7 linked regions of the Homo sapiens genome follow. The protein of the gene in region 2 purifies or fractionates together with the protein of the main gene of each other region. This does not show direct contact. Each region holds a gene or a part of one and is shown on either strand. Other genes may lie near its edges.

Evidence for each region.
Region 1: the proteins of RHOBTB2 (region 2) and CEP131 purify together in Homo sapiens (affinity purification with mass spectrometry, with the first as the bait; one large-scale study listed by BioGRID). This does not show direct contact.
Region 3: the proteins of RHOBTB2 (region 2) and DBN1 purify together in Homo sapiens (affinity purification with mass spectrometry, with the first as the bait; one large-scale study listed by BioGRID). This does not show direct contact.
Region 4: the proteins of RHOBTB2 (region 2) and ARIH1 purify together in Homo sapiens (affinity purification with mass spectrometry; 2 studies listed by BioGRID and IntAct, with this or other methods). This does not show direct contact.
Region 5: the proteins of RHOBTB2 (region 2) and USP9X purify together in Homo sapiens (affinity purification with mass spectrometry, with the first as the bait; one large-scale study listed by BioGRID). This does not show direct contact.
Region 6: the proteins of RHOBTB2 (region 2) and CDC40 purify together in Homo sapiens (affinity purification with mass spectrometry, with the first as the bait; one large-scale study listed by BioGRID). This does not show direct contact.
Region 7: the proteins of RHOBTB2 (region 2) and MACROH2A1 purify together in Homo sapiens (affinity purification with mass spectrometry, with the first as the bait; one large-scale study listed by BioGRID). This does not show direct contact.

The regions. Positions count from the first base shown.
Region 1 is NC_000017.11:81,216,466-81,219,965, forward strand, and holds part of CEP131 (centrosomal protein of 131 kDa), read right to left. Parts: coding exon 3,415-3,500; intron 1-3,414. UniProt on the Homo sapiens protein: Component of centriolar satellites contributing to the building of a complex and dynamic network required to regulate cilia/flagellum formation.
Region 2 is NC_000008.11:23,013,048-23,016,547, reverse strand, and holds part of RHOBTB2 (rho-related BTB domain-containing protein 2), read right to left. Parts: intron 1,859-3,500; coding exon 1,770-1,858; intron 911-1,769; coding exon 805-910; intron 1-804. UniProt on the Homo sapiens protein: Regulator of cell proliferation and apoptosis. It likely functions as a substrate-adapter that recruits key substrates, e.g. MSI2, to CUL3-based ubiquitin ligase complexes for degradation. Required for MSI2 ubiquitination and degradation.
Region 3 is NC_000005.10:177,460,135-177,463,634, forward strand, and holds part of DBN1 (drebrin), read right to left. Parts: intron 2,293-3,500; exon of another isoform or gene 2,098-2,292; intron 570-2,097; coding exon 510-569; intron 422-509; coding exon 298-421; intron 1-297. UniProt on the Homo sapiens protein: Actin cytoskeleton-organizing protein that plays a role in the formation of cell projections. Required for actin polymerization at immunological synapses (IS) and for the recruitment of the chemokine receptor CXCR4 to IS.
Region 4 is NC_000015.10:72,564,830-72,568,329, reverse strand, and holds part of ARIH1 (E3 ubiquitin-protein ligase ARIH1), read right to left. Parts: intron 1,768-3,500; coding exon 1,725-1,767; intron 1,225-1,724; coding exon 1,153-1,224; intron 1-1,152. UniProt on the Homo sapiens protein: E3 ubiquitin-protein ligase, which catalyzes ubiquitination of target proteins together with ubiquitin-conjugating enzyme E2 UBE2L3.
Region 5 is NC_000023.11:41,217,945-41,221,444, reverse strand, and holds part of USP9X (ubiquitin carboxyl-terminal hydrolase 9X), read right to left. Parts: intron 3,074-3,500; coding exon 2,848-3,073; intron 2,344-2,847; coding exon 2,214-2,343; intron 1-2,213.
Region 6 is NC_000006.12:110,214,927-110,218,426, reverse strand, and holds part of CDC40 (pre-mRNA-processing factor 17), read right to left. Parts: intron 3,142-3,500; coding exon 3,096-3,141; intron 726-3,095; coding exon 624-725; intron 1-623. UniProt on the Homo sapiens protein: Required for pre-mRNA splicing as component of the activated spliceosome. Plays an important role in embryonic brain development; this function does not require proline isomerization.
Region 7 is NC_000005.10:135,389,232-135,392,731, reverse strand, and holds part of MACROH2A1 (core histone macro-H2A.1), read left to right. Parts: intron 1-3,500. UniProt on the Homo sapiens protein: Variant histone H2A which replaces conventional H2A in a subset of nucleosomes where it represses transcription. Nucleosomes wrap and compact DNA into chromatin, limiting DNA accessibility to the cellular machineries which require DNA as a template.

The sequences.
Region 1 (3,500 bases), on a different chromosome or scaffold from region 2:
GGCTGCAGTAAGCTGTGGTTTCTCCACTGCACTCCAGCCTGGGCAACAGAGCAAGACCCCGTCTTAAAAAGAAAAAGAAAAGAGAATGCAGGAGCCCCACGCAGCTGACGGATACGGCACTTGTTCCAACACATCTCCAGCATCACTGATGCCTGTGTGCCCAGAGTAAGTGTGGGTGCAGGAGAAACAGAACAGTGGCCGCCTAGGAGAGGCCCGCAAGGTCGGGCAGGACAGGCTCACTGCTCAATGAGCCCCCTTTTCCCAAATGGTGGGTGTGAATGGCCTATTCAAAACACATGGTAGGAATTTTGAAATCATCCCCCAAAATGGCACCAGTCATTGCATCAGGGCCATGGGATTATGGGTGCCCTTCATCCTGTCTCCATTTTCCTGGGGTCAGTTTCGCAGCCTCCAAGAGGAAGATAAGGGATGTCAGGGGAGGGATGAAGGGGCTGCCACTCACTGACGGACACCACGGTGGAAAGGCACCACTCATGCTCAGATGGTAAATCAAGTCATGGACTAAAAACCCTAAACTCCACCTGCAAGAAGGAGGCAACATCGCCCAGGGAGGGGCAGGTGGCCCCCATGGCCATGACACATATGCACAGTGATGTCTGTTCCCCAGTGAGCTTGTGCTCTTGGGATTTAAAGACCTCTTTTCTTTAAGGGGAAGGGAACCAGAGTGAATAATGATCTAGGGGGCTAGAGGATCAGGTGGGCACACAGCTGGGGCAAGGAAGAGGGACCCTCTACAGTCTGGCACCGACATCTCTTGAGCCAGAAGACCAGCAGGAACTGCAGTTACATCCTGGATGGGGAATCCCGGGACAGCAGGCCGTGGACGCAGGAAGATCTTTAGAGACAAGGGGTAGAGTGGAAACCCCAGGCCAATGGCCACCGAGAAGGTCTCCGAGCCAGGGGACAGCACCCCACCCCACCCACAAACACCAGGAGGAAGAGAATCACGTGCCGCCTTGTACAGGTGTGAAGCCATGCCTGGCCAAAACAAATGCTCTCCAGGAATCCCGATGAGACTGAGTGGTAGCAGGGCAGGTGGCCGAGAGGATGGGGACCGGGCACAACAGAAACCCCTGAGGTCACGTCACACACTGGCGGGGGTTCCTCTTCCACCAGCAGTTCCCGAGCTCCCACCATGGGCACAACAGAAGGCAGACAGGCATGCAGGGGTGGGGCCGTCTCGGATCGAGCGAGGGCCTCAAAGAATTGAAGTGAACAGCTGGAACATTCCATGAACGAGGGGACTGTTAGCAGTCGCCACTCAACACTGCGGGAGCGGGCAATGGTACCAGCCGAGGAAAGGAGGGATCGATATGAGTAGCGCTCGCTGTGGCTTTGAACCTCTACTCAGCAACAGAACATTTCCCAGCAGAAAGGCTGGGAGTGTGGTTAGGTGCCTGGGTCGGCCGCGGATAGAGCCTGGCCATGCCGCCGAAAGACCATCTACTAGAAAGCCCGGAAACTTTTACAACAGTCTCCACACAACAAGAGAGCTGCAATTTCTTTCTTTCTCCTTCTCCCTCTCCCTCTCCCTCCCCCTCCCCCTCCCTCTTTCTTTCTTTCTTTCTTTTTTTGAGACAGAGTCTTGCTCTTTCGCCCAGGCTGGAGTACAGTGGCATGATCTCGGCTCACTGCAGCCTCCTCCGCCCGGGTTCAAGCAACTCTCCTGTCTCAGCCTCCTGAGTAGCTGGGATTAAGGGTGCGCGCCACCACGCCCGGCTAATTTTTGCATTTTCAGTAGAGGCAGGGTTTCACTATGTTGGCCAGGCTGGTATTGAACTCCTGACCTCAGGTGATCCACCCGCCTCAACCTCCCAAAGTGCTGGGATCACGGGCGTGAGCCACCTCGCCCAGCCCAGATCTGCGATTTCGAGTGCGTCTTCCCCGCCCCATGTGCCATGAACCTAGGGCTTTAGAAACAGCGGGAGGGGCCAAGGCAGGTGGGCGAGGGGGTCAGTGACGCAGGAGCAGGGCTGCGGACAGGAGAGGCAGCAGGCTCAGAGACGGCTCTAGCCCAAGCTGGTTACCCCTCTGCTAAAACAGTGCAGCATATTTTTATTTTCACAGCTTACGTCTGTAAATGCCTAGAGGCGTACCACATCTTTAGACAACCTGCCGGCCACAATGACACATCAGGACATCCCGGGTCCCCGCCCTGCTGGCCCAGGCTTTGGGAACCTGCTTGGTCCAAGGGTCCGCTACTGGCCCGGCTGCCCTTACCCCGGAACTCGGCTAGCCGTCTGGCGGGCCACACCCTGCCCACCTGGGGGTGCTTCTAGGGCAGACACAGGAATAACTTTTTCAAGGAGAAGGGGGAGGTCCAAGCCTTTTATTCACAGTGGAACCCTGGCCTGGGCCTGCCAGGGGTTCCTGTGGGAAGCCTCAACTGCCCTCCAGACCCCTTCTCTCTGCCCTGCTATGTTGCCTGGCACGGACCTCAGGCAGGGAGCCCCAGACCGGCTGCCGCATGGAAGCCAAGGCCCCCAGGCCCTTGCTATTCGGAAGCTCAGGCCAGACTCTGGTCAGGCTCTGCCCCAACCCCCACAGAGCGGCTCGATTCCTCCCTTGCCCCAAAGACTGGGCCTGGCAGACACCAACTCAGGGTGCAGCAGGCCCGGCCTGCCTTTCACAGCCCCCATCTGGGAACCACCCACCCTCCTCCCTACTCCCAGAGGTGGGCAGGAAAGGCAGCTCTCACCCCGAAGCTCCCACGGCTGTCCTGCTGCCCACACACCCACACACCCGTCTAGGTTTCTCCAAGGCCACCAGGAGCTCATCACCCCTCCCCACAGGTCAACCCCATTTCTTTCTTTTTTTTTTTTTTTTGAGATGGCATCTCACTCTGTCGCCAGGCTGGAGTGCAACGGCACGATCTCGGCTCACCGCAACCTCTGCCTCCTGGGTTCGAGCAAATCTCCTGCCTCAGCCTCCCGAGTAGCTAGGATTACAGGCATGCACCACCATGCCCGGCTAATTTTTTTTTGTATCTTTAGTAGAGACGGAGTTTCACCATGTTGGTCAGGCTGGTCTTGAACTGCTGACCTCAGATGACCCGCCTGCCTCGGCCTCCCAAAGTGCTGAGATTACAGGCGTGAGCCACCGAGCCCAGCCAACCCCATTTCCTGAGGATTCAAACAAATCCAAAGGGCGGTGGCACAGGAGGCCTGGGGCTGTTGCTGAAAGAATCCAAGCTCTGGCTTGACTTTCTAGTGATTCAGCACCCACGCCTGTAAGACTCAAGTCCTACCTGCCTCCTGGAACAGCCACGAGGATCCAGCATGTCCAGATGTGAGGCACTTGTTCACCTGTGGAGCTGGACCCAGGGGTCAGATGCCAACTGAACAACAGCCCTCCAGGAGGCAGGGGCCCGGACTCCTAGGCCACAGTACTCACCAGCACCTTCCTCTTCTGCTCGCTGCCTGTGACCACGGAGACAGAGCGGACGATGGGCTTGGTGGTGGCGGCACTGCCAGGACGCC
Region 2 (3,500 bases):
CCCAGCTACCCGGGAGGCTGAGGCATGAGAATCACTTGAACCCAGGAGGTGGAGGTTGCAGTGAGCCGAGATTGTGCCACTGTACTCCAGCCTGGGCAACAGAGCAAGACTGTCTCAAAAAAATAAATAAATAAATAATTTTTTTTTAAAAGTGTTGTAGTAGTGAAAAGGAGAGATCGGGGTGGAGACTTGGCAGCATGAGGCAAAAACACGGCAGCAGGGAGGAGGGTCACGGCAGACTGGAGGGAGCCCAGAGAGGACCCCATGGAAAGAGTGGCAGACCCTTCAGGGAGGCCAGGGACACCTCTCCCTGGAGCCTGTGCAGTTTCTGTTGAGTTCTAGGGCCTAAGAAATTAATCAAGAAGAGACAGGAGGCCTCAGAGGATGCCCAGACCTGGGTGGTCCAAGCTGTGGCCTGTACCCATTCCTGGGTTGTACCATCAATTTAGTGGGCCATGAGCAGCATTAGAAAGATGTATATATTTTCCTATATGTGTCCTGGGTCACAAGATGAAATGTATTTCTTACGGTATTCTGTCCAGAAAAGTCTGAAATCTACCAACTTTAGTCCAGTATCCTCTTCATACCTCTGAGAATGAGAAGCCCAGAGAGGCAGGGTGAGTTGCCCTCCAGGCCAGCACTTTTCCTGGGGCCCCTTGGCTTGGCTGGAGGCTCCTTTGCAGGCTGCTCCCAGCCCCAAGGTCAAGGATTACTGGCAGCCTCGGGGTCCCTGGGATTACATGGGAGCTGTGCACCCCTAAGGGGAGGGCAGCAGGTACTGCCAGGACTGGCCCCGATGCTCACCTGGGGACATGGCCTTCATGTCTCGGGGGAACTTGCGGCACACGTTGTTGTAGTTGGTGCAGATGTGGTGGAGACACCAGTCGGCCAGCTGGTACGCACAGTGGAACTGGGGACAGAAGGGAAGAACGTCTGTACTGAAATCCCCAGGGGAGAGGGTCTGCATAGACACCTCCAGCTGCCTTCAGAGCTGAAGCTCTGGTGCAGGGCACGCAGAGGCCCTGCAGTTCTAGAGAGCCTGCGCCAGAGGCAAGGCCACACAAAACTGAGGATGATGATGCTGCCTCAGGCTCCTTGGCACCACCGCCAGCACCACCATCATCTCACCTCTGTTCTGCCCACTCCTGGCATCCTCGCTGCAGACACCAGAGCCCTATGTAGTGGCTTCATACTGCATCTGCCCTCCTCAGATCTCAACCTACCTGACTTCTCTCTCCTCCACATCTGGGATCAAGGCAGCCTGCACGGAGGCACTGACAATGAGCTAAGGGAGCTGCCTTCCCAGGGGTGTCTGCAAGCCCTGCCTGAGCCGTGCTTCCACTCCACACACTAATCTTTGGTGGCTGAATTTCTGGCACTGTGAAGGCCACTGTGGGAGATTTGGCTTGTTTGTTTGGGATTAAGGGAGTAGGCGGTTAATTTCAGATGGAAAGTCCTCAGTGCCCCTTAAATGACCTCAGGCAGGCAGCAACCATGTGTAAGCCTGAGCCTGGGGTTCCCTCCCCAGCCCTACTGCTGCCTAAAGCCTCATCCCTTCCCCACTTGGTCAGCTCCCCTCCGGGTACACCAGGGAGTTCCCCAGCTGCTTCCTGGCATGGAGGAGGAGATGGGCTACGCGCAGTCAAAGAGCCCAGTCCGATGACAGGTTCTCCCGCATAGACCATCTTCCACCCCTTCCCATTCGCAGCCAATGGGCAGGCAGAGTGTAGAACTGAGACTGTTGTAGATTCCCTCCCCTGCCATGATACCTGAGCCAGTTCCAGGAACACAAGGACGTCCCCATCGATGTCCACCATCATCTGGGTCGCTTCCATCAGCCCGGTCACTGTGTACTGCTCTGTAACACACACGGCCACCAATCAGCTGAAGAAGCACATGACCTGTGCTCACCCTGCCCCACCACATCCCCCAGCTCACTTCAGGGTGAGGAAAACCAGGGCCCGGGCAGGTCCGGACAGGCCAGGAAAGGCCCCAGGCTATGACGTCTGCTGCCACCAGGGGGACCCCAGGGATGACAGCAAGAGCTCAACGGGGTAGGGTAGGAAGAGAAGGAGGACATTGGAATTACCTAAGAGGATTTTTCAAACTACGTATGTCCCGTGACATAATCTGATACAGGTAGGGTCAAAGTTCCCAACAGAACCAGCCTCTGATACAAAAGGGAGAGTGTGTGAAACCTCATGTCTGCTGATCACAGAAAAAGGCTGAGAACTGTGAGTTAGAACTAGGAGTTAAGTCTAGTTGTTTGTTTTAATTTAAATTTTGTAAAAAATTGTGTACTAACCTTGTATTTTAAGTTAAAACACTTATATTGAAGAAGTAAACACCCTTGGTTCTGAATTTTAATTAGAAGTATCAGTATAAACTCATGAGGTATCTTATCTTTAAAAAGATCAATATATTTCCCAGCTCTGCCCCCAGAAAAGACCTAGAAACAACAGTCATCCCAGTACAATGAGCATTCCTAGTGCACACAAATACCAGTTCCACTTCCAACACAAGAAACTAGGACTTCCTGGAGAAATGGCTGATTCCAGGTCTGGGGCACAGAACCTTCAAGAGGAACCTAGAACATCTCATCATTCCAGATAGAGAGGAAGCTCGTAAGACTCTGGAGTCAAGCCAAAGAGTGCAGGATTTGAGCTTCAGCAAGGATAACTGCAATTAACTGAAACCAATCAAGAATGTTCAAATCTAAGGGGCCATAATAATACTTCAAAAACAAACAACTGGCCGGGCACGGTGGCTCACGCCTATACTCCCAGCACTTTGGGAGGCCAAGGCGGGTGGATCACTTGAGGCCAGGAGTTCAAGACCAGCCTGGCCAACATGGTGAAACCCTGTCTCTACTAAAAATACAAAAATTAGCCGGGTGTGTTGGTACGTGCCTGTAATCCCAGCTACTCGGGCGACTGAGGCATGAGAATCTCCTGAACCTGGGAGGTGAAAGTTTCAGTGAGCCGAGATCACATCACTATACTCCAGCCCAGGTGACAGTAAGACTCCATCTCCAAAAATAAAAAATAAAAGTAAAAAATAATGCAAAAAACCATGCTGTAGTGTTTAATGACACACACTTGGATGATAAAACTATAAAGGAAAGTAAGGCAGTATGCCCATAAAAAGTGCCATAAAAAAAGGAATACTAGGCAAAGGGCTTCCTCTTAGGGAGGAGAGAGGGGTCTGTGAGAGAGGAGGGAGAGGTGGAGGACTTCTGGTGGCCAGCAAGGTTCTAGTTCCTGACATAGGTCATGAGTAGAAAGGCATTTTCTTTATAATAATTCATTAAACTAGGCCAGGCTTGGTGGCCCACGCCTGTAATCACAGCACTTTGGGAAGCCGAGATGGGAGGATCACTTGAGGCTGGAGTTTAAGACCAGTCCAGGCAACACAGTGAGACCTCATCTCTGCAAAAAATTTAAAAATTAGGCCGGGTGTGGTGGCTCACGCCTGTAATCCCAGCACTTTGGGAGGCCAAG
Region 3 (3,500 bases), on a different chromosome or scaffold from region 2:
CTAATTCACCCCAGCCGAGCTGCTCCCCGTGGCCAGCGCTGTGCCTCAGCCCATGCCAGAGCTGCCCCACAGGCCCTAGCACTCCCCACTGTTCAGCCACAAGCGACTTCACCACCATCCCTGGCCCTTCTTGGGGTCCTGCCACCTGGGAAGTGGTGGGCGGATGCACGCTGGATGAAGGGTCTCGCCTTCTCCAAGGGTTGCTTGGGCAAGGCCTCCCTTCTGAGAGAGTCCCAGAGAGGCTCAGGGCCGCAACCTGAGGAGTGGGGCCGGACGGGGGGTGGGGCCTAGGACTACCTGGTCGATGGTTGAAGGGCGAGGGTACATCACAGCTGCCCGCAGAGGCCGATGCGACTCTTTCCTGCTGCTTGAAGAACTCCCTTGGGTTGTCAGGCCGCTGGGCAATAATAGCTGCTGCCTCCTGAGGGCACGAGGAAAAGGTTGGGGCTGGGCCAGGCAAGCTGAGATAGCCCTGTCTGCCTCACCTGGCTGGTGCCCCCAGCTCTCACCTCCACCTCCGACTCTGACTTCTTCATGTGGGTCTCTTCCTCCTCATCCCGATGGTCACCCTAGAAACCAAAGGGACAGTGTCTGGTGCACCTACCCCCCACAGGGGCTTTTGGCCTTCTTTTTTACTGTATTTTATTTATTGATTTTGTTTTTAAGACAGGTTCTCGCCCTACCACCCAGGCTGGGGAGCAGTGGTACAATCACGGCTCACTGCAGCCTCTGCCTCCTGGGCTCAAGCAATCCTCCCACCTCAGCCTCCCGAGTAGCTGGGACTACAGGTGTGCACCACCATGCCCGGCTAATTTTAATTTTTTGGTAGAGATGGGGTCTCCCTATGTTGCCCAGGCTGGTCTCAAACTTCTGGGCTGAAGGGATCCTCCTGCCTTGGCCTCCCAAAGTGTTGGGATGGATTACAGTCATGAGCCACCAGTGCCCGGCCTTCTGGCCTTCTTTTTTTTTTTTTTTTTTTTTTGAGACGGAGTCTCGCTCTGTCGCCCAGGCTGGAGTGCAGTGGCGGGATCTCGGCTCACTGCAAGCTCCGCCTCCCGGGTTCACGCCATTCTCCTGCCTCAGCCTCCCAAGTAGCTGGGACTACAGGCGCCCGCCACTACGCCCGGCTAATTTTTTGTATTTTTAGTAGAGACAGGGTTTCACCGTTTTAGCCGGGATGGTCTCGATCTCCTGACCTCGTGATCCGCCCGCCTCGGCCTCCCAAAGTGCTGGGATTACAGGCGTGAGCCACCGCGCCCGGCCCCTTCTGGCCTTCTTACAGCCCCCATGCTTCTTTCGCAATCTGGCAGGAAGGGTTTCAGAGGTGGTACCTCTGCCCCGTCAAACCCTGTCACACAGCCCCTCTCTTCCCTCAGGGCCCTCAGCCACCTCATCTCTGACCTGCCAGGCCTCTGGGCACCAGGCTCACTCACTCACTTGCTCATCCCCATATCTAAGCAGGTGCCTAGGGCCCTCCAGAAGTGCTCCTTGTTTTGCAGATAACTTCTTGGACCTCCTACCCTAGTGCCGGGGCCACCATGCTCCCAATGTTGCTGCCTGGACCGTGGCATCATGGTCCAGCCTTCCTCACTGCTACCTGCCTTATTTGCTCTCCATAGGCCCTGAAAGGACCTTTCCAAAATGCGGATCAGACCATGATTTTCCTGAGCTTAAAATCCCTCAGGGGTTCCCATGAGCCACAGCAAGCACTGGCTAAATATGACCCACAGATGGCTTTTGTTTTGCTGGTATGATATTTTTAAACCATGTTCATTAGTTACCACCACTTAAAAACCAGGAACTTTCATACTGAGATGAGGGTCCCAGTTTCTCTTGAGGTGACAGAGCCCTGGCGACATCACCTGCAAGCCCGGAGCAGCCATCACCGGGGCCTCGCCGCAGCCCCCTTAAGACAGGCGTGTGCCACCCGCTCACCCCCGGCCCCACCATCGCCTACTGGCTTCACCTGCCCACTGCACACGTTGTTTTGGGTGGGCAGCGCCCGCACTTGGCCTACGTCCCCCACCCCTGCCTGACCTAGCCGTCACCTCTCCAACACCACCCCCTGCCGGCCCCCACCCCAAGGCTCCCACATACTGTGAGATGTAGACATCAAGTCCTCAGCACGACGCAGTCAGTTCCCAGAACAGGCACACCCGTTCCCACCTCCAAGCCTCAGCATGGGAGACTGGCCTCCCTCCCAAATGCCTGCTCCCCACCCGGGGGCCAGGCCCTCTGGTTTCCAGCTGCAGCGTGGCCACTGCTTCCTGGGGAAGGACCTCTGAACAAGAGGCTTGTTCAGGTCATTTCCTCCTCTGGGTCCCCACAGGGTGCTCCTGGCTTCCACCACGATGACACCACATCCTAAGTTCCTGTTTCCGGAGGCACCTCCCCCCTCCGCTGTGAGCAACGCAGGATGAGGACCGGGGTCTCCGGGTGGGTGGCCAGCACAAGGCGGGCGCATGTTTGCTCAACTGCACTCACACACCAAAGGCTTCTTAGTCGGTGTCCCCTGCTGCTCAGGTGGCAGCTTGGGCAGGAGGGGCTGCTAAGGTGGTGAAGTCCCAGGGCTGCTCTGTTTTTGAGCCTATAATCTAAAATTTTAGCTTATGTCAGGAGCACTGGGAGAAGGGCCCTTCGTAGTATCCCACCTCAGGAGGGCTATCACCTCAGTGATAACTTTGTGACCCCCAGAATGAAGTCTAAACTCCTCCTCTGCCCTTGCTCTCCTTTCCCAATCAAATCTCCCCCACTCCTCAGCCCACGGGGTTCCAGTCAGCCTAGGCTCTTCACCTTCCCATGAGCCTGTGTCCCACCAGCCTTTGCTGCTCTGCCCACTGCCTGCTGTAATCTCAGTTGGTTCCTCTGCCTTGTTCAAAGAAAGGACCAGAGGCAACTACCACAAAGGCTTTTTTTTTTTTAATCTGAGACAGAGTCTTTCACTCAGGCTGGAGTGCAGTGGCGAGATCTCGGCTCACTGCAAGCTCCGCCTCCCGGGTTCACGCCATTCTCCTGCCTCAGCCTCCCGAGTAGCTGGGACTACAGGCGCCCGCCACCACGCTCGGCTAATTTCTTGTATTTTTTAGTAGAGACGGGGTTTCACCATGTTAGCCAGGATGGTCTCGATCTCCTGACCTCATGATCCGCCTGCCTTGGCCTCCCAAAGTGCTGGGATTACAGGCATGAGCCACTGAGCCCAGCCCTCCACAAAGGCTTTAATAAACTACCAACCATGTGAACACTGAAACAAGTAAGGCCCAGAGGGAGGAGAGAGATCAACGCACTAACCACATGGGTCAAAGCCACTGCTGTGCCTAAAGCATTTTCAGATACACGGGAGCTCCCCTGCAGGCCAGGCAAAAAGGGAACTCAGATATGGAACACAATTCGTAACAGGGGAGAGAAAGCAACAGCTCCTTAAGCCAAGAGAAAGCATTTCACAGTGCTAAATCCCAAAGTCTCTCGCATATTCCCTTCCTTAGAGGACCTGAAATTGAAAG
Region 4 (3,500 bases), on a different chromosome or scaffold from region 2:
GGACTTAAGGAACATTTCTTGTGGGAAAATCTTCAATTTTCAAAAAAAGAATGCTTGGCTAAGAATTTTTTTTTAATAACAAAACAAGTAACCACTTTCTGACATTACAGTATATTTATAGTAAGGTTTTCTTTGATTGACGTGAGTTATGCTTATCGTGATGGTTTTGGAGGGAACAAAAAATATTAATTTCTACCATATATTCCTTAAAGACTTGGGCATTTGTTTTATGTGGCAAGATTCACTGTTTCACTACTTTCTGGGAGACAGAAATATAAATTCATGTTTTATATATAAGTATGTAAGATGTATATTTAAACACACACAGACAACCTGCGTCGGCCTTCATTGTTTACACACTTCTTAATCTCATTGTCCTGTGATGACTGAGGCAACAGTTCAAAGATAGCTTTATATACTATGGGTCAAACAACTCAGCATTCTTTAAAGCATCATCTTTACATGTACAAAATAATACTAAAAATGAATAGCCCATGAACCAACCTACCATTCATTACCCAAGTCACTCACTATGGGGATAGGATAGGACTGAATTACATAAAGGATGGATAATACGACTTTGTATTAAAAGACTAGCTGGGTACACGGTTGGCATTCAAATGCTTGCTCATTAGATTAGTGATCGAGGAGAAGGGTACTCAAGATTTAAACACTTCTAAGACATTTGTCTGGGGTTAAGAAAGTGAATTTTGAAATTGAATTTTGAAACTAGTATCAAGAGCAATGTACTTCAAAACAAAAAATTAGAAACAAAAATGTAAATTAGCCTAACAGAACCAAGCTAGGCGGAGTAAACTCCAATGCATTTGTATACTAAATGGCAGCCAAGCACAAATCCCACACTTGAAAAATTATCAGCTTTTTCCTCTACAGAACACTAATTTTTTTTCCAGTAGAAGAAACCTAAGGCAGAGAACTGTGGATGCTGTACTACAGTACTCAATACTCTAAAATAAACTCAAAGAGAAAAAGGAAATAACAGGCAAACATTCTGGGAAAAAAAAAAAAAGACTCAATGGAGAAAAAGATGAAACAAAGCCTGTAAGTAGGTCACCTCATTGCTTTTGCTAATGCCAAAGTACCAATCCTTATCATTTTTATTACCAAGAGTTACTGAAGGAAAACACCAACCTTTGTGTTGGCTGCAATCCAATTGGAGGTTTCACTGTCATCATCACACTTTTTAATCCATTTCTTTAACCACTGTTTGAAAATAACAACGGTTAGGATACAACAAAAGACTTTTAAAAATAGCAAATTACTTTAGCACTTAACTATAGTCAAGCTTAAATGTAAAAGCCAATGAATAAGATTATCACTAGGCTCACATCCTCTTAAGCCAGGGAAATCCCATAGCTACAATGTCCAGTATATATAAAATCAACCAAAGCAGGATTTTCTTTGGCAGAAGCTGAGTGGGGAACCTAGAGCTTGAAGAGAAGCCCAACTGCAAGGTGTGTATTCCCCTAATTACAAAGCCTGACAAAGAGGTGCCTTAGCCATGGTTATCCTAATAACAATCAGGAGCTGACTTGGCTTATCCTAAGGAATTACCTCTGAATACATGTAATGATCATCTGAAATTAAAAGGATAAAAAAAAATCTATCAATAGATAGATAACAAAATCATCAGCTATGATTTTTAGTCACTAAGTCTTAGAAGTGTGCCATTATTTAAAAATTGAAATGTCAGACAAACTCACCTTACATTTAACAGGATCATGCCAATTTTCTCCACAGTTAAAGCTGTTAAGTGACACAAAGAGTTAATAGAATTAAGGCCTACCTACTGTAAGCAAGTAAATAAGCCAATCATTTCATGCCTTATAGTTCCACAGTATTGTCACTAGTTTCTAGTGACTGGCAAATACAAGGAGAGAACCCATGTCTGCTTTACAGTTAATTACCTAGAATTTAGTAGTAGAACTAGCACATAGTGGGTACTCAATATGTGTGAAGAATGACTATAAGCATGAAGACACGCTTTGATGACAATTTCATAATAATTGTTGCTAAGGTGCCTCAGACTATATTGAGAAGTTTCAACCCATGCTTCATCAGTGCATTTTTAATCTTTTACTTAACACCCTAAATGAAGAATAAAAGGCTGACTTTGTAGGTTACTTATATAATTTAGTACTAATACACAGTAAACAATATATGGGAAGCAAATAGGTCACATCTTTGCATTATTTAAACAAATGAACCTCCGCCCTGTAGAGGGAAATGGTACTGGGCAAGGTATAAAACAAAAAGACTAAATACTCACTAAACATGTGTTAATCAGTAATTCACTTTTGTTTTCTAAGTTCATGACATATACACTTGTAAAAGAAGTATAATTAACAAACACAAATGCTTAAGAAAAAAATAATAAAATGACAGATTAATTAGCTAATTAAGTAATTTACGAATGGCAAAAAGTCCTTTGCTAAAGACAGAAACAAACTACTATTGATTTAAATCAGGTTAAGATAAATGGTTATTTCTGAAAAGAAAGATGGGGAATGGGAAGGAGCAGGGAACCAAGGAGCTTCAAATATATGTGTCATGTTTTATCTCTTAATGAAGAAAAACAAAATACTAATTTTGATTTAACTGGATTGTAGCTATATAGGTATTCACTGCTGTATTCTCTATACTTTTATGTTTGAAATGTGTCACGCTAAAAATACATTGGAAAGTAGGTATTATCCACCTTTTCTCTAAAATAACAATACATAATTAATCTTTATCGAAACAGTATGTATTTTACACATACTTAATCTCTGTGAGCTTACCTGCTCTTTTTGGAAATATTTATTATTAATGATGTGTTAAGTGTAATTCTATAGATGTTTGGAGGAAAAAAAGAAAGGTATGGAATACCAATAAAATATTTCCCCCTCCAAACCACCCCGCAGCAAAAAAGAAAATCTGGCTGGCCATGGTGCTTCTCACCTGTAATCCCAGCACTTAGGGAGGGCCGAGGCAGGTGGATTACTTGAGGCCAGGAGTTCAAGACCAGCCTGGCCAACAAGGTGAAATGCTGTCTCTATTAAAAATAAATACATAAATAAATAAACAAATAAATAAATAAATAAAAATTAGCCAGGCGTGGTGGCACACGCCTGTAATCCCAGCTACTCAAGAGGCACAAGAATCACTTGAACCTGAGAAGCAAAGGTTACAGTGCGAGATCGTGCCACTGCACTCCAGCCTGGGTGATGGAGTGAGACCCTCTCTCAAAACAAAACAAAACAAAAAATCTATTTGCTGGGTCTAGAGCCCCTTGACTTGATTGGCTTCTTACTCCTCAAGACCCTCAAAGGAACAGAAAATCATCTTAACTTCTAGCAGGATATAAATGTTTGTGTCCCCCTAAAATGTGTATGTTAAAACTTAATAACCAATGTGACAGTATTAGGATGTGGAGCCTTTAGGAGGTGAATGGAATTGGCATCCTTTTTAAAAAAAAAAGGGGCCCAGAGAGCTGCCTT
Region 5 (3,500 bases), on a different chromosome or scaffold from region 2:
CACTTTGCATTTTCCCTATTATAGCTATTAACATATTTTATGGCAACTACATTATTTGCTTCTATATCCCATTAGACAATCTTATTTATTGCCATATTCCCAAAAACATAATAAAAACAGGTCCACAACCTCTTATCTGAAATCCTAAGATTCCAAAAGCTATTTTAATTTTTAATTTTTTTTAAGATGGAGTCTCGCTTTGTCTCCCAGGCTGGAGTGCAGTGGTGTGATCTCAGCTCACTGCAACCTCCGCCTTCTGGGTTCAAGCGATTCTTCTGCCTCAGCCTCCTGAGTAGCTGGGATTACACGCATGTGCCACCACGCCCGGCTAATTTTTGTATATTTAGTAGAGACGGGGTTTCACCATGTTGGTCAGGCTGGTCTTGAACTCCTGACCTTGTGATCTGCCTGCCTCGGCCTCCCAAAGTGCTGGGATTACAGACGTGAGCCACCGCGCCTGGCCCAAAAGCTATTATTATAACAAGTTTTTTTTTTTTTTTTGAGACGGAGTCTTGCCCTGTTGCCCAGGCTGGAGTGCAGTGGCGCGATCTTGGCTCATTGCAACCTCTGCCTCCCAGATTCAAGCCTCAGCCTCCCGAATAGCTGGGACTACAGATGCCCGCCACCACGCCCTGCTAATTTTTGTATTTTTAAGTAGAGATGGGGTTTCGCCATGTTTGCCAGGCTGGTCTTGAACTCCATACCTCAGGTGATCCGCCTGCCTCGGCCTCCCAAAGTGCTGGGATTACAGGCATGAGCCACCTCGCCCAGCCCAACAAAGTTTTTCATTAAGTTGCTGTCAAAATGTGGTTGGTGGGATAACCTAGCCCAAACTGACTAAAGGCTACTTATAGTCTTTATTTCTCCCTTCAGTATAAATATTCATATTTTACTGTAGAAATATTAATGTGTTCAATTGTAAGTTGTTGTCTCAGACCCTGCTATAGAGATGTTGGTATATGCACTGCCTTGCTTTTCTTAAATCCAAACAATTCTCAATCCCAATGCATATCTGATCTTAAGGACTTCATATTAAGGTTTACAGGCCCTACAGTATTTGTTTTCAGCAGGAAAATTTTACAAGTAGGTTACATTATGGAACAATGATGTGTGCTTTGTGAACAGGCAATATCTAAAAGAGTTGAACAGAATAGGATTCTTCTGAATGTCTAAATTTGGCATTTTTAAGTTTGAAATACAGATTCCACTTATGCTTGTCTGTGTAATAAATATTCTCTTTCTCATCTACAAATACCCAAATATCTGCAATTACGGAAAAGACAAGGGAAAAGAAGACAAACTAAATAGACAAATGAAAAGTACAATCTCCCTTATGTTAAAAGGGCCATGGATCCAATGGTGATTAAGTAAGATCACAGAAAAAAAACCTGAAACGACAGGTACGCCTGGATATAGAACTTCATTTTGGATATATGACTTTTTGGTTTGTTTGCTTTTTGGAGACAGGGTCTCATTCTGTTGCCCAGGCTGGAGTGCAGTGGTGCAATCACGGGTCACTGCAGCCTCAACCTCCTTAGCTCAAGTGATTCTCCCACCTCAGCCTCCCAAGTAGCTAGGACTACAGGCATATGCCACTACATCCAGCTAATTTTAAAATTTTATTTTGTAGAGATAGGGTCTCCCTATGGTGCCTAGGTTAGTCTCCTGGGCTCAAGCAATCCTCTTGCCTTGGCCTCCCAAAGTGCTGGGAGTACAGGCATAAGCCATTGTGCCCGGCCCCTAAATTAATATTTTAAGCGAGTATTTATATTATCCATAATTGTAGTTTACTTAAACAAAAACTTATGTACAGACCAAGTCTGCTATCTAAATTTGGTGAGTATCACAACCATTTGGGGACCCCTTTGAAAACATGGATTCCCTGACATTAGCTTTGGGGATGCTGATTCAATCAGTGTGAGAAGAGGCCTAGAAACCAGTATTTTCCAAAAGCAGCCAGATTTGGCACCACTGCATTAGGAGATTAAAAAAAAAAAAAAATCAAAACACAGATTCTGACCTGTGTCTACCACAAAGACACATGCATAAACAAAGTAAAAGGTGAAAGTGCCATGTTCAGATAAAATTCACAACAGGTTTTATGGGAAATTGTTTCTACTTCAGATCAGATTATATTTCATCACTTGACCTAAATGACTTCACAATTTAATATGATACATCAAAACAGAATTCTGAAAAACTTAAATTCTTACCTAAATTGGCATACATTACAAACAGGTTGAAATACTGCTGTAAATGACGCCCATGCTCTGAAACTTCCCTTCTCAAGAGATTTAGTACTGCTCTTAGTAAGTGATCACTCAAGCTTAAGTTGTCATAAGCCTGTAAAGGATAAAACATTACCTGTTTTACAGCAACAAGGTATATGTATACTTCTACTTGCATAAAAAGGACATGCACATATGCTGATACAGGCATACATTTATGGAAGGACTGATCACACAAACTAAACTATTTTGCTTCTTGGGAAAGGGAATGAAGATCAGAGGCGGATTTCATTATAATTTTTTACACTTGTAATTTTTTAAAAAAATCTAAGACTATTTAAAAAACCTTCAAAATAGGAAAAAATCTACTTAACAGTAAACTTATAATTAAGCTACTGCATGTAACCGAACAGAGAAAATTCTCTTACATTTTTAAAGAGCCAATAATTACTATTCATTGCCATGCAGTAATATTAAATGGAACTCACTGACATCATATTGTGTGTTTCTGTTAGGTAAACATATCAAGTGGATGCACATATGCTTGTGACTTCGACTTCCAGGAAACACAATTTATTTGTAAACATCTCATCATTTAGAAAGAAAGCTGTGCAATTACCTGACTAGAAGGTCCAGGAGAGGCAAAAGGTGAAGGACATGGCCCATCTTGCAAGGAAAAATGTGCAATAAAGACTATAAGTTTTGCAAACGCACCCCTCACTTCTGCACTAGGGCACTCCAGAAGGTATTCGGAGAAGCGATTTGAAACATTAAAAAGGACGTTATGAGCAAACCAAAAACGTACATTCTTGCTGTGACGAAGGAGAATACACAATGCATCATACCTAAAATAAAACAAAAAAACCTATGACTATTAAGTCAATAACTTGTTCTCTATAGTAAAAGGATGAGTCTCATTGAACCAAAAAAAAAAGACAAAGATCTTCCTCTACTGCTGGAGAGAACCAGCAAAGGTTGCTTCTAATATTAAAACAATAGATAAATACTATGACTTGGTCTATTCTCTCAGAGTTACCAAACAGGTGAAAGCTTGTCCTCTAAAAATCCATTAACAAACTCTTCCTAGATTCAATGACAAAATACCACCCCCTTATCTTGACATATTCCTGAAATGAGTAAGTAAAAATTATTAAATCAATGTATCATAATGGCCTCTATACTTTCACAATTAGAAACTTAAGAAAACCATTTTAATTTTTTACCCTTTTAATCGGTGTCAGAATTCAATCTAGGTAAGCTAAAACCTAATAA
Region 6 (3,500 bases), on a different chromosome or scaffold from region 2:
AGACACTGAATATCAGTGCTTAGCAATTATGCCTGTTAAATGATGTTTAATAAACATTAACTATTATCATTACCCTTCAGATGCAGTAAGGGTAATGACAGTAAGACAATAAGATAGTAAGATAATTTTTATAATTACATAAAATTATACTAGCCACAACATATTAATGTGAATCAATTAATAAACAGCAATTAGTATGGCTGTGAATATATAAAACCAACTGGCCTGTGAAAGTTGAGACCTACATTTTAATCAATTTGCGCAAATACATTTAATTTTGTTCATTAGACATTTATTGCACTTCTGTTATGTGCAATGCACAGTGCTAGGTGATGTAGGGGAACAAAAAAATCAATTAGATGGCCTATACAAGATTTCCACTTTGCTTATTTGTCAGTACGTTTGCTTTATAAAATCTATCTGGTGGAAACAAGTTTCACAGTGAAAGAGCTACTCATGCTCAGTTTCGACTTACAAATGTATTTTGTGATATTTGCTGACAGTGAATGGTATGAGAATCAGCAGTTAGAGAAGGTGCCATTTTGCCACAAAAGACTACTCACACCATTTCAAATATAAATAACTTGTAAGATGAATGTGTATTAGCATAAGTGAACTCTTACCTGTCTCAGTGTCCCAGAGCTTAAGATACCTGTCATAGGCTGCACTGAGGAACTGTGTTCCTGCAGTATTGAAGCAGATATCCCTAACAGCCTTACTGTGACCTAAAGGTGGAGTCAACAGAAACAGCAATGAGGTGAAGTATCATATATCTTCTTCTCTTAAAACATTAACACCATAAAGACAAACAGCACTAAGCAGTGGTTCTCAGCTGTGAGTCAAGATCACTGGAATGCCACCGCCTGATTTACTGACTTAGAATATGTTATGTGTGGGCTTCAGAATGTGGGCGTTTTTTTCCCCTTGAAGAAGCTCCTCAGGTGATTCTGATGCATAACATCTTGGTTAAGAACCAAGAGGAAAAGGTTTAACTTTTCTTTTAAGTCTGCCATAGCAATTACTTAATATGCAGTACATACAAGTGATGACTAGCTAGCCAAGAATTTATGGAAATGTAAAAGACCAATTATTGCCAGTGAAAGAAATGGCTGCTGGAATTTTGGAGGTTCACTCTCAGAATGTCCACCAGGCTGCAAGTGAAAACAAAGTGCCCCAAACCTAAAGTTCAGGAAACTGTAGCCCTTGTTCAATAATTGTATATTTCTGTGATCACATTACCAAATTTCATAGAAACTGATTCAGAATGTAGGAGACTTTCTGAAAACTATATTAGCTTGCATGGTTTTTTATTTTTATTTTGAGATAGGGTCTTGCTCTGTTGCCCAGCCTGAAGTGCAGTGGCTGGATCTCAGCTCACTGTAAGCTCAACCTTCCTGGCTCAAGCGATCCACCCACCTCAGCTTTTCGAGTAGCTGGGATTACAGGTGCACACCACAACGCCTGGCTAATTTCTGTATTTTCTGTAGAGACAGGGTTTTGCCATGTTGCCCAGGCTACCTTCTTTTGCTTTAAGATGATATTTTGATAATACACTAATTTTAAGGTGCTGATTATTATACTTTACTTAAAAATGAATATTGCCAGTTCACTCAACTCTTTTAAAAGTTACAGGGAAAAATAAAATGTGGCTAAACAAAAGCAAAAATGTTCCTATTTTTGCCACCCCACCATGACCAAGACACGTACAATTGTGCAAAATGAGCATGGCACAAATTGTTAACCACATGCAGCAGCTCTAAACCATCACCTCCAGTGAACTCCCATCAGGAGGTACGTGTCATGGTAATTAGGCATCCTTTTCTACAGCTGGAGTCCCAGTCAGAGCTTCTATCATCTCCTTCAGGAGGAAAATTTCAGTTTTCCACAGAAAAATGGTCTGCCAGTAGAGGGGAGACAGATGCGGACCAAATCCACTCTATCTGATGGAGACATTTTGTTCCCCTGTACACAGCTGAGAGCCTTCCACAAGTCTTCCTTTAGGCTGCGGTGACATCTTAGGCAGTATTAATTTGTGCAGGGAGGCCTTAAAATCATAAAGCACTGCTGAACAGACTCCCACTTTAATCTAAAAACAGAGCCACTACGAGTCACACCGTTTCAACGTGGTACAGTTAAATTTGGAATGAGTAACTAGCCTTCACATGAAATCTGACAAAGACAATAAACCTTTCTCTACCAAAAATCTGGTTTGTCACAAAGCTGTCCTCCCTTTGGCCTTCTTTCTTTCTTCAAGGAGTTCTCTCAATCTCATCCTTTTTTTATGCTTTAGCTGTCAATTCCCAGTCTCTCTTCAAAGCTCGACCTCTGGCTATCTAATTGCTTACTGAACATTTTTACCTCAATATCCCAAAGGCAGCTCAAATTTGGTGTATCTAAAACCTTACCATCATCTTATGTTCCTTCTTGGTGAATGGCACCATCGTTCATCCAGCCTCATGGGAGTCACTCTAGATTCCTGTCTCACTGTGATCATTCACATGCCGTTACTAAATCTCACTGACTTTAACTCTAATACGTAGTTCCTTTCTTTTCTCTCTCTGCTGCTTTGGTTCAGGCGCTCATCATCTCTAAACCAGACCTATGAAATAACTGTGTAATTAATTTCCCTTCCTCCAGGCTTGCCCTACCAAATCATCCTGCATATTGCCATTTGATCTTTGTAAACTTCAAATCATGTTGCTTTCCGGCAAGAGCTCTTTAATGGTTCCCCAATGCCCTCACAACAGAGGCTAAACTCTTTATTAATGGCACAGGAGGTCTTCCATACTCTGGTCCCTCTCTTGCTACTTTTCTCCGCTTTTGTCTCTCACCATCCCCCATACTCTGACAATCCTGAAATGTACGTGGATCCCCTCAGCAGCACGCTGTCTCACACCATTTTTGTTTTGCATCCGCTGCTCTTGCTTCCTAGTTCTCTTTCTTTGTCTAACTGGGGACACTGACTCCTCCTTCCAGATTCAGCTGAAATCTATGAAGAGTTTACTTCCTATCGGTGTAGTAAAGTTATTGTCAATGATGTTATCTTACTTTAAAAATTCTTCCCAGATTTATGTTGGAGAGAAAAGAAGCATTACCAATAAATGTTCTCAGACAGCGCCGTTCTCCATAAACCTCCCATAGCTGGGGGAGAAAAAAAACAACACATGGAAATATTACATTTAATAAAGGTCCTTCAATTAATAACAACAGCCCTATGCTGGTTATGTGTGTGCACATCTGTGTGTGTAAACGCACAGCTTCAATCATTAAATATTAAACACTGAATATCATTAAATATAGCTTGGTGCTGCCAGTTTGTGTTATATTATTTGGAACACACACACACAGAGTCACACACGCTCAAAACTAAAGAGTTTTAAAGATATTTACATCAAAAAAGAGACTTAACTATAGATGGAGTTAATTCAGGTAAGTTTTCATTTTCATATTGTTCTTTTCTATTTCATACATTTTCTAGGATGAAAAGTTTCTACTTTTGT
Region 7 (3,500 bases), on a different chromosome or scaffold from region 2:
CTTAATTGCCATTGGCCTCACAGTCACTCTCCCCCTTGTCATGGGTGCCTGACTGGAGCTACCCACACCTGCATAAACCTCTGAAGAGCAGGATGGACCTGGCACATTCATGGGTTTATCTGGAGACTGCACAACTATGAGTTGGTTTTCAAAAGGGTGTTTTGAAAACCACCACACATTGCTGGATGTCATAAGGCTTCATGGCTTAGTCAGAATTCTTTCATAGCTGTGGCTGCAGCTTGGGGAACTATAGTTAGAAGTGCAGGAAGAACATGGGGAGGGATAAAGTACAGAATCTCTGCAAGACAACCCCATTGGTGGGGAGACAGACTTGAGGCCGCTTTATTGGACAGGAGCCTGACTCAGAATGAGAAGTGAAGATGTTCTTCTGCCAGCAGGGTGGCACTGGAGGAGCTGTGATATTTCAGACCTTTCTTGGGATGAGTTGACTACAGTGCTTCACATCGAATGGCTTGCAGTTCAGTCAAGTTGGAGAGGCATGTGCTGGGATATATATACTATGGGAACATGGAGCAGTGAGCAATTCCAGGCTGTGGTCATGTCCACAAAGCCTCCATGGCAGAGGGAGGCTGTGAGTGTCAGTTCAGCAAGTTGACAAGAGGACAAAGGGCATTCCAGGCAGGAGAACTGCGTGTTCAGAGACATCCTTAACACAGTGTGACAGGCTCAAGAAGTCAGGGGTGGCCTGAGGCATGTGAGCCAGGGCTGGGGTGACAGGAAGCAGTGCCACCAAAAGTAGCTGAAGTATGCTGTTTGTGGCTAGCTCAGAAGCTCAGGCTGACAGGGAATCATCAGAGTAGGCAGAGCTGCTTCTGGTGTCCATGGATGAAGACTGGTGCGGTTGAGAATAGGTCAGAAGTAAAGAGGCTGAACCAACGCAGGGAGGGTGATGAGAAGAGGCCTGAGAGGTTCTGCAGGCGGTTCAGCAGAGCTTGGCTAATGCTTGGGTGCTGTGGGGTGGACAGAGAAGTCTGGGCCAGGTTCACTGCTGTTTGGCTAGTTTGGTGCATGACATTGCCACTGATGAGGCTGAGAGACCCAGAGGAGTTCAAGGCACCCATGGGACTTGTAAGTGGGCCCTTGCCATCAGCAGTCAGAACAGAGCTCTGAGGCTCAGCGGCCAGGTGTTGCACTGGCATAGAGACCTGGGAGTCACTGGCATGTTGATGTAAAGACTCAGCTAGAGTCAGAGGAGGGAAAGACAAGGAGCACCACTTTTAAGGAGTCAGCGTGTCTAGGACCTGCCAGGTCTCTGAGTGCTAACGGATCCTTTCTGGAGGAGACCACTGTCCAGTTCCCACATAGGCAGCCCCAGACATGCCCAGCAGGTCAGCTGGGAAACAAAGCTGAAGTCTGTGCTCTAGTAGGAAAAGGGCTGAGCTGCTGTTAATCATCACTGACCACAGGCCTCCCCTGCTGAAAGGGGGAGACATTCCGATTTAAAAGCTCAGTCCAAAGGCATCAGGTTGTTGGTCTGTGAAACACATTTGTAGTAAAGCAAAAGACTGCTAGGAAACCCAATGACAGCCTTGCCTGAAAACACAGGCACACATACATATACACATATCATTTCCTGCTCAGAGTGAGCACAGGCACCTTTTTGCAAGGAATGTTTTAAAATGGAGTTCATTGCAGCAAGGAAGGGATCCAACTAATTGTTTTGGAAAAACCCAGACCCTTCTGGGTCTCTCTAGCCCTCAGTGAGCAGTTAAGACTGGGTGCTCCTTGACAGGGCGCTCATGACAGAGGCCTTTACTCTTCTAACATCACTCCAGAGCCAGGGCCTCTGCCATCTTACCTCTGTTGGGCCTGTCTACACAGTAGCCCCAGAGTGCCCAGAATTCTGTTTTCTGTCCTCACAGCCATCTCTGTGGCTCATCCCAGATGATTTGAGATGCACCTGGGATTAGAGAGGTGTTAAGTGTGGACCGTGGCATGTCCTGACAATGTCCCTAGTATAGGTTGAGCATCAGAGTAACAGGGACTCCTATCCCTGTGGCCTCCAGTGGTCACAGCATTGACTGCTGGTGCTGGAAGGCCCCAAACACCATGGAGTGTGACGTCAGTTTATCAGTACATGGGAGACCTGCCCAGTTGGTTCAGTGAGCAAACATGTTCATAGGGAAGACTTTAGGGGGCCCCAGAACAGGCCAAGGCCCCTCATATCCCCTCTCCCAGCACCCTGCACTGGCCCTTTGAAGCATGCATTACGTTTATCTTTTAAATGACTAGGGGGTTATTTATTGTCTTTTTCCCCACCAGTTCCACAGGGACCACATCTGCCCAGCATAATACCTGAAGTGAATGCATAAATGAACAGGATGCTCCAAGTAAACATTCGAGACCTTGGATGGTGCTACAGTAGGAATACAGTTAGGGGCACCCCTCCACCCACCTGCAGTCTGATGGGAGAATGGGCACACGTGCATCAATGCTGTGGTGTGCAGCACATGGGGCCCTGAGGATGAAACAGCCAGATCTCAACATTTGGGAGGGCTGGCAGAAGGCAGAGGCAAGTGTGAGAGATAATGGAGGTCCCAGCCAAAGGGAACAGCTACTGCCCAGGCAGGGAGAAAAGAAGTGGAAGGGTATTTGGGGGGAACCTTGTGTGGCTCCCTGTTTGCTAGTTTAGACCACAGGTGGCCCAAGGCAAAGCTGGACATGTGTGCCAGGCCTAGATTTCTAGGGCATTACATGGCAGGCCAAGAGTCCTGGTTCTATCATGAGAATTGTGGCAGCCACAGAAAGCTTTCAGGCCAGGGCCGGGGCATGTTCAGGTGGGTGTGTACCCAGATTGCCCCACCCATGGGGTAGAGGGTGGATTAGAGGAGAGGGGGCTCTGGTAGGGAGACCTTTTCAGGAGACATTTGTGACCACTTGATTAAAATAGTGATGACCAGGATCCCATCACTGGAGGTGGAGAGAAAGAGCCCCACAAGAGGTGTAGAGGAGGGTTTTCCTCTGGACTGGGTGACTGGATGGGGATTGGGAGCAAGGAAGGAAAAAACACCTCTCTCTCTCTTCTCTAAAGATTGGCCCATCTGGTGGACTAGAAGTGCTCAGAGGGCCTCTTACTGCAACCTGACTATACACTGTACTGACTCCTGTAAGCTGTTCTTGCCTCTCACAGATAAAGAATCTAAAATAGAGACACTGCTTTCATCAGAGAATCTAGGTATCTGCCTTTACATCATCTTTTTAGGGGAGGGTGTCATAGCTGTTTTTCTTTTATGAAGCCTTTGGTAAGTTTATCAGCCCCAGTCTCAAGTGTATGAAAATGCAATTATTAAACAAGTGTATAGAATGTGGCCAAGAAATCCCATTTCCTTTTTCATCATGTGGCATAATGGCAAGGCACTTAAGTAAAATTGATGTCATGGTATAAATTGTGCAAAGCCAAGCCTTTCTTTTCAGGGATCAAACTGCTCCAGCGGAGTGCATCACCTGGACCCGGAGGGCCCTGCAGCTACAGACAGTGG